Linked DNA regions of Homo sapiens. The protein of the gene in region 1 purifies or fractionates together with the protein of each later gene. This does not show direct contact. Each region holds a gene or a part of one and is shown in the gene's direction. Other genes may lie near its edges.

The links.
Region 2: the proteins of DENND10 (region 1) and ZBTB47 purify together in Homo sapiens (affinity purification with mass spectrometry; one large-scale study listed by BioGRID and IntAct). This does not show direct contact.

Annotation. Positions count from the first base shown.
Region 1 is NC_000010.11:119,102,527-119,107,071, forward strand, and holds the start of DENND10 (DENN domain-containing protein 10), read left to right. Parts: upstream 1-1,586; 5' UTR 1,587-1,616; coding exon 1,617-1,671; intron 1,672-2,238; exon of another isoform or gene 2,239-2,496; intron 2,497-2,784; exon of another isoform or gene 2,785-2,958; coding exon of another isoform or gene 2,959-2,969; intron 2,970-4,545. UniProt on the Homo sapiens protein: Guanine nucleotide exchange factor (GEF) regulating homeostasis of late endocytic pathway, including endosomal positioning, maturation and secretion, possibly through activating Rab proteins such as RAB27A and RAB27B.
Region 2 is NC_000003.12:42,665,620-42,668,125, forward strand, and holds the end of ZBTB47 (zinc finger and BTB domain-containing protein 47), read left to right. Parts: 3' UTR 1-1,961; downstream 1,962-2,506. UniProt on the Homo sapiens protein: May be involved in transcriptional regulation.

The DNA of each region.
Region 1 (4,545 bases):
CGTAGTTCAGGGTGCTGCCTTCCAGGGGTTCAGTTTAGTGAGAGAAACAGGAATGCCATATACACACCTAAATATACTCCAATGTATAAATTGCAGCCTGGGCAACATAGCGAGAAACTGTCTCCAAAAAAAAAAGAAAGAAAAAAGAAAAAAACAGGCGCAGTGGCTCACGCCTGTAATCCCAGCTACGCAGGAGGCTGAGGCAGGAGAATCCCTTAAAACCGAGAGGCGGAGGTTGCAGTGAGCCGAGATCGCGCTATTGCACTCCAGGCCGGGCAACTGAACAAGACTCCATCTCAAAAAAAAAAAAAAAAAAAGAAAAAAGAAAAAAAGATGAGGGTGGGATTGTATTCCTGCAGACACCAAGGACCCTCCCTAATTAGCTCTGTGTGACTTGGGGTTGGGGCAGACAGTAGATCCAGAGGAGGAATCTTGGAGCCAAATCTTCCAATGTCTGAGTCGTTACTATCATTCAGATCTCAGTTCAAATATCCCTTTCTCAGAGAAGCCTTTCTTGACACCCATTTTAGAGCAGCACACCTCCACTCTCTAACACACTGCCTCCAGGGCACATATCGTTGCCTCCAGGGCACATATCATTCTGAGCTTTTTTACTATTATCTATCTATCTGTCATCTATTTATCTATTTATTTATTTTTGAGACAGGGTCTCACTCTGTCACCCAGGCTGGAGTGAGTGGCAGGATCACAGCTCACTGCAGCCTCAAAATCCTGGGCTCAAATGATTTTCCTGCCTCAGCCTGAGAGTAGCTGGGACTACAGGTGCATGCCACTATGCCTGGCTAATTTTTAAATTTTTTTTGTAGAGATGGGTCTCACTATGTTGCCAAGGCTGATCTCGAACTCCTGACCTCAAGTGATGCTCCTGCCTTGGCCTCCCATCGTGTTGGGATCAGAGGCGTGAGCCACCTCACCTGGCCTGGATTATTTATTCTACTCGCCAATTGTCTGTCTTCCCCAGTGGACTGCTCTGTCTTGTTCAGCCCTATAAGGTATCCCCAGTGCCTTATTAGGCCCTCAATTTTTGTTTTGTTTTGTTTTGGGGGTGGCTGGATGAAGGAATGGATGGAGACCCTTCCTCCATCCTCAGGACGCCTCTTTTTAGGAACAAGGTGACCTGTTCTTTTGAGCTTGACCAGAGGGCAGAGGTAGAACAAGGAAAGCCTACGACGGGAAGAAAGATTGGAGTGGATTGAGAAGAAGAAGGATGAACAGCTGGATTAGAGAAATTGAGGCAGGCTGCGGAGACTCAAGGAGGTTTCCAAGGGCGAAGGGCCACGGGCAGAAGACGAGTGGAGCTGCACTGAGCAGGTCCTGGCAGGGAGGACTGGGGCTGGAATAGGTGGGCCTGCGGGTGGGGCGGGGCCGACGGGGGGGGTTGATGGTCCTGTGATGGGGCGGGGCGGGAGGGAGGCGGGTCCTACAGCGGGAGGCGGGGCCTGTGATGGTCCGGGGAGGGAGGCGGGGCTTATGATGGGCCGGGGAGGGAGGCGGGGCCTGTGATGGGGGCGGGCCCTACGGCGGGCGGGGCGGGGTTCGGGTGCGAGGCCGGTCCTGCAGGCGGCAGCCAGAGCTGCGCGCCGCGGCGGCGGAAGATGGCTGCGGCCGAGGTGGCGGACACTCAGCTGATGCTTGGAGTCGGGCTGATCGGTGAGGACGTAGGCGCCCTGCCTGGAAGCCCGCACCCTGGTTCTGCCTCTGCTCCACCTCGGCCCGGGGCAGCCCGGGCTCCCGCGGCCCCCGGCGCCGACCGCATGAGGAGGGCGCGGCCCCCTCCCTGTTGGGCCTGGACTGGGGACTGCGGAGCCCGGCCTCCTTGGTGCAGGGGACCCGGCCCGCCGCCCTCGCCCGCCCGCCCGCGGCCGCCTGTGGGGCCTGCCCGGCCCGAGGGAGCCCGGGGACCTCCAAGATTCCGGGGTGGAGCTCCCCCTGCACGCCCCGGGTTGCCCGGCGGAGCCGGGACGTCGAGCGCTCCCAGGCTGGGCAGCTGCGAGGGGCGCTGCGCGGGCGGGGCCGGGCCGGGCGGGAGCAGCCGGCTGGCGGCGCGGCGCGGCGCGGCGGGGAGGAGGCAGGGTCCGGTTCCCCCGAGCCGGGGGCGGGCGGCTGCCTCGGAGCCACGGGTGACTGCCCGCCCGGGCGGCCCCCATCGTGGGACCGGGCAGCTGGAGACTGCTGGGCCGGGTGCTGCGCGTTGTACACACATTGTCTCCTTTTAGCTCTCACCAAGGACCGAGGGGCCGTGGGAAACGTCTGACGCCCACTTCACGGAGGAGCAAATGGAGGCCCAGGCCGTCATTGTGCACGGACACACCATAGGCCGTACAGAGCCGGGAGTGGGACCCTCGCAGTGTATCCCAGAGCCCCCAACCCCCACCAGTGGAGAGCTCCTGCATCATGTGATCGAGCTTGTGCATAAATAAAGCAGGAGTTTCTACACAATCCTGTGTGGTGGAATCTCGGTTAGCTCTGAGGAATGTAATTATCTTCCATAATTAAAAAATATCACACGGGGATCTTTGGGCAGCCTCGTGCAGTATTTAGGGGATGGAACCCGTTGGTTCCCTTCGAAAAAGTTTTATTTTCCCGAGATTTTTGCACACCCCTAAACTCTTTCTATTCCCCAAGTGCGCAATAACATTGCTTAGGCTTTAGCAAAACTGAAGAAATATGCTGATTATTTTTCAGTGCCTCAAAGCAGTGCGTTTATGTGGGAATCGCTTACTGTTTTTATTTCTTTGTCTTTCTTCTTTTTTTTTTTTTTAGACGGGGTCTCCCTCTTATCCAGGCTGGAGTGCAGTAGCGCAATCATCGCTCTCTGCAGCCTCCACCTCCCAGGCCCAAACCATCCTCCCGCCTCGGCCTCCGAGTAGCTGGGACCTCAGGCGTGCACCACCACCCGATTAATTTTTGTATTTTTTGTGGAGATGGGATACCGACATGTTGTCCAGGTGGATTACTGTATTTATTTCTAATGTGATTTTCAAACTGCTTCAAAACAAAACCTAAGTAACTTAGTTTCTCCAGAAGGTACTTTTGAACTAAGGCTAAGTTAAACTGTCTTTATCTACTAATAGCAAATAAAAAGATGACATATGATCATATTTTGAACTCAGCAGTTTTTTAATTATTCACACTAACGTGCATTTAAAAGGGGTTTGCAGCCAGCCTGGGCAATGTGGTAAAACCCTCGTGTCTCTACAAAAAATACAAAAATTAGCCGGGTGTGGTGTGCCTGTAGGTGGGAGGATTGCTTGGTCCCAGGAGGCAGAGGTTGCAGTGAACTGAGATCATGCCACTGTACTCCAGCATGGGTGACAGAGTGAGACCCCCCCCAACCCCGTCTCAAAAAAAGAAATTGAAAAAAGAGGCCAGGCGTGGTGGCTCATGCCTGTAATCCTAGCACTTTGGGAGGCTGAGGCAGGTGGATCAATTGAGGCTGGGAGTTGATCAGCCTGGCCAATATAGCGAGACCCTGTCTTCACTAAAAAGGCAAAAAATTAACTGGGCGTGGTGGTGCACACCTGTAATCTCAGCTACTTAGGAGGCTGAGGCAGGAGAATCACTTGAACCCGGGAGGTGGAAGTTGCAGTGAGCTGAGATCAGAGGTGGAGGTTGCAGTGAGCTGAGATTGCGCCACCGCACTGCAGCCCAAGTGACAGAGTTAGACCCTGTCTCAGAGAGAGAAAAAAAAACAGAATGTGAGTGTCTTTTTTAGTATAATGATTTCTTTTCCTTTCGGCAGATACCCAGTAATGGGATTACTGGGTGGAATGGTAATTCTGTTTTCAATAACAATTTTTTATTTGTAGTCTTTAGAGACAGGGTCTCTCTCTGTTGACTAGGCTGGAATGCAGTGGTGCATAGCTCACGACAACCTCTGAATCTTGGGCTAACTTGATCCTCCCACCTTAGCTTCCTGAGTAGCTGGGACCATAGGCACACACCACCATGTCCAGCTAATTAAAATTTTTTTTTTGTAGAGATGCGGTCTCACTATGTGGCCCAGGTTGGTCTGGAACTTCTGGCCTCAGGCGATCCTCCTGGGTTCCCAAAGTGTTAGGATTATAGGCATGAGCCATTATGCTTGGCCTAAACAATTTTAAATACAAAATTCACACAGTTGGTATGCAACATGGTTTGAAATATTTCACTATTTTCTTCATCTCTGGTTTTGTTTTCGACAAACCTTTTCTATGTATTTATTAAAAATTATTCGGCTGGGCACGGTGGCTCACGCCTATAATCCCAGCACTTTGGGGGGCCGAGGCAGGCAGATCATCTGAGGTGGGGAGTTCGAGACCAGCCTGACCAATGTGGAGAAACCAAAACCCCATCTTTACTAAAAATACAAAATTAGCCAGGAGTGGTGGTGCATGCCTGTAACCCCAGCCACTCGGGAGGCTGAAGCAGGAGAATAGCTTGAATCTGGGAGATGGAGGTTGTGGTGAGCTGAGATCACTGCATTGCACTCCAGCCTGGGCAATAAGAGCAAAACTCCATTTAAAGAATTATTCCGCCCAGCAC
Region 2 (2,506 bases), on another chromosome or scaffold:
GCTCTAGGCCTTATCCTCCCTCTAGGTCCTGCCACAACCTGTCCCTGGCTGGCTCCAGCGTCCTCGTCCCTCCTGGGCCTGTGCACCGGTGGGTGGGGCGCCCATAGCACTGCCGGTAAAGGAGCCTGCATGTTCAGGCCCCTCGGGGGATTGGGGGGACTGGGGAGGCGCAGCCTAGACCCAATTGCTTGCCCCCATGAGGCTAGCACTAATAGGAAACCCTTTTTTGTTGTCATTTAATGTCTTTATTCCTGCCTTTAATATGGGGAGGAAGGTTCCATAAGCTACATGTTTCCTAGTTAAGCTCTTTCCTATTGTGTTTATACAGTTTTGTTTGTTATACTCTTTGCACCTTAAACCCCCACCACTCCCCGACACTATTGCCTTCCCAGCATGGCTGGAGTGGGAAGAGGCTTGGGCCCCGGGGGAATGGTTAGGGGGACTGAACCCCTCTGACCTTATGAGGCCCATGGCACTGGGGCAGGGAGCTGGGGACATTTTAATCATCAATAAACGAAGCACTTTATTCTGTACAGATTTGGGCAGGCCCAAGGTGCCCGAGTGATCTGAGGATTTATAATCCAAGCCACACCACCCTGGTTGTTCTCTGGGCTTGGAGGGTACAGTGCCAGCAGCTTCCTTGCCCAATTGATGTTGGAGCTGTAGACGTACGCTCAGGCGCTCCTGCTGTCCTGGGGGAGAGAAGGTTCGCCCCTCCCCGAGGAAGAAGGCTTCTGGTCAGGACCCCCACCCCAAGGCTGGGGACTCCAGGCTCCTGCTTTACTGTAGCTCTTTTTCTTCCTTGCACTCCTTGATCTTTGGGCTTCCGTGATGTCCTCAGGGTCCCCCCCTCCCTGTTGCTATTTTTAATCTCTAGTCCCAGTGCCTGGCAGCTCTTTGGAGCTGGCTCACATTTTCCCAAAAAAAGTTGATCTCTCCCAGTGGGCTGTAGGCAGGGTCCTCCATGGGTTTCCAACCCCCATCACTGGCACCAGGATCTCCCACAGGCACTGGTGGTGTCATCACCTGCTGGCCCCACTACAGCCTGAGTAGGCCTGAGTGGCCGTGGCCAGGCTGAGACCTGTCAGGCCATACTGACAAGCAGAGGTCAGAGACACTGGTGGGGAGCTGGCAATGAAACCCTGTCCTGGGACATGGGTTTCATGTTCTTGTACACTTCCCCTCTGGGATCAGGTGAGGGGTCCAGACAGCTGACCAGACAGCTTGACAGCTGGTCAAGACGGTCACGGGAGCTCTAGGTGGGCACAACCAACCCCTCTCCTGGGAGGCCCCTGCCCCACTGGGGATAGGAGCCTGTGTCCCTGGTGCTAAGCACTCTCTTCACTTGGGCCATTGTTGGTGGGGGCTCCTTTCCGGCCAGACCACAAGGCCAGAAGCAATAATGGCACCTCAGCAGTTCCAGTATGGATAGGGGTTCCTGTTTTACTAGCTTTTACATCTTTTTATTTAAAACAAAACAACACAAAAAAACAATGTGCCCCCAGATGTCAGAATGAGGCGACTAGGGCACCATACTCACTTTCCAGGGCTGGGGGAAGGGGGACGCAGGATCATCCCCTCCCAAGGAGATCTGTGGGGGTCCCACCGTCCATCTGGACTTCTCAGCCTGTTTGGCTAGAACTCAGGCCTGGAGTCTGGGTCTGCCCCCTCCCCGGCTCCTTGGGGCTCTCTGGTCTCAGGCCAGCTGGCGATGGGTGGCTAGAGTGATGAACTCAAGCCCTGTGGCCACAGTTCTGGGAGCCTTCAACCCTGGCTCATGCTGCCATAGTCTCCACGGTGCCCTTCACAGAGGGCTTGGTAGTGGCAGAATGGCCATGCCCAGGTGTGTGTTGAGACCATTGACAACTGCTCGTGTACAGGCACCCCACAGCCCCAGAGCATGGGGCACAGCAGGCATGCGAGTGAGAGGATGAAGGGGAATAAAGTCAGTACAACTCGTGTCCCTTGGCCCAGCCTCTTCTTTGCACTTGGCCTGCCTTGACTCTTGGACCAGAGCAAGGGGCTGGGCTTTGGGGACCACCCAGAGTCAGGAGATGAGGCAAGGGCAGCGGTGGGGGATGGGGGATGGGCAAATAGGTGGGTCTTGGGTCAGATGCAGAGGGGCATGAAAGAGGAGAAGTCCTGAAGGCAATGGCCACAAGAGGCCAGGGCCTGTGCAGGTGTGGTTTCCCATGAGCACCAGGCATGGAGCCACAGTAGCTCTGGGACAGCAGGGACCGGTGCTCCCACTTATGTGCTGAGCCCTGGGGATGCTGTGATGAGCAGTATGGACTCATTCCTCCCTCGGCAGGCAGGGGAGGTCAGAAGGGGCCAGATAACAGAGATGCTGACTCAGGCACCCGGGAAGACAAAAGCTCAGATGGAAGACAGGTGGTAGCCTCCAGAGGAGCAGATGGCTCTCCCTGGGGAACTCAGAATTGTTTCATGGCACAAGTAGTATATACAGAGAGCACTCACTCCATGCCAAATGGAATTCTAGGCCCCG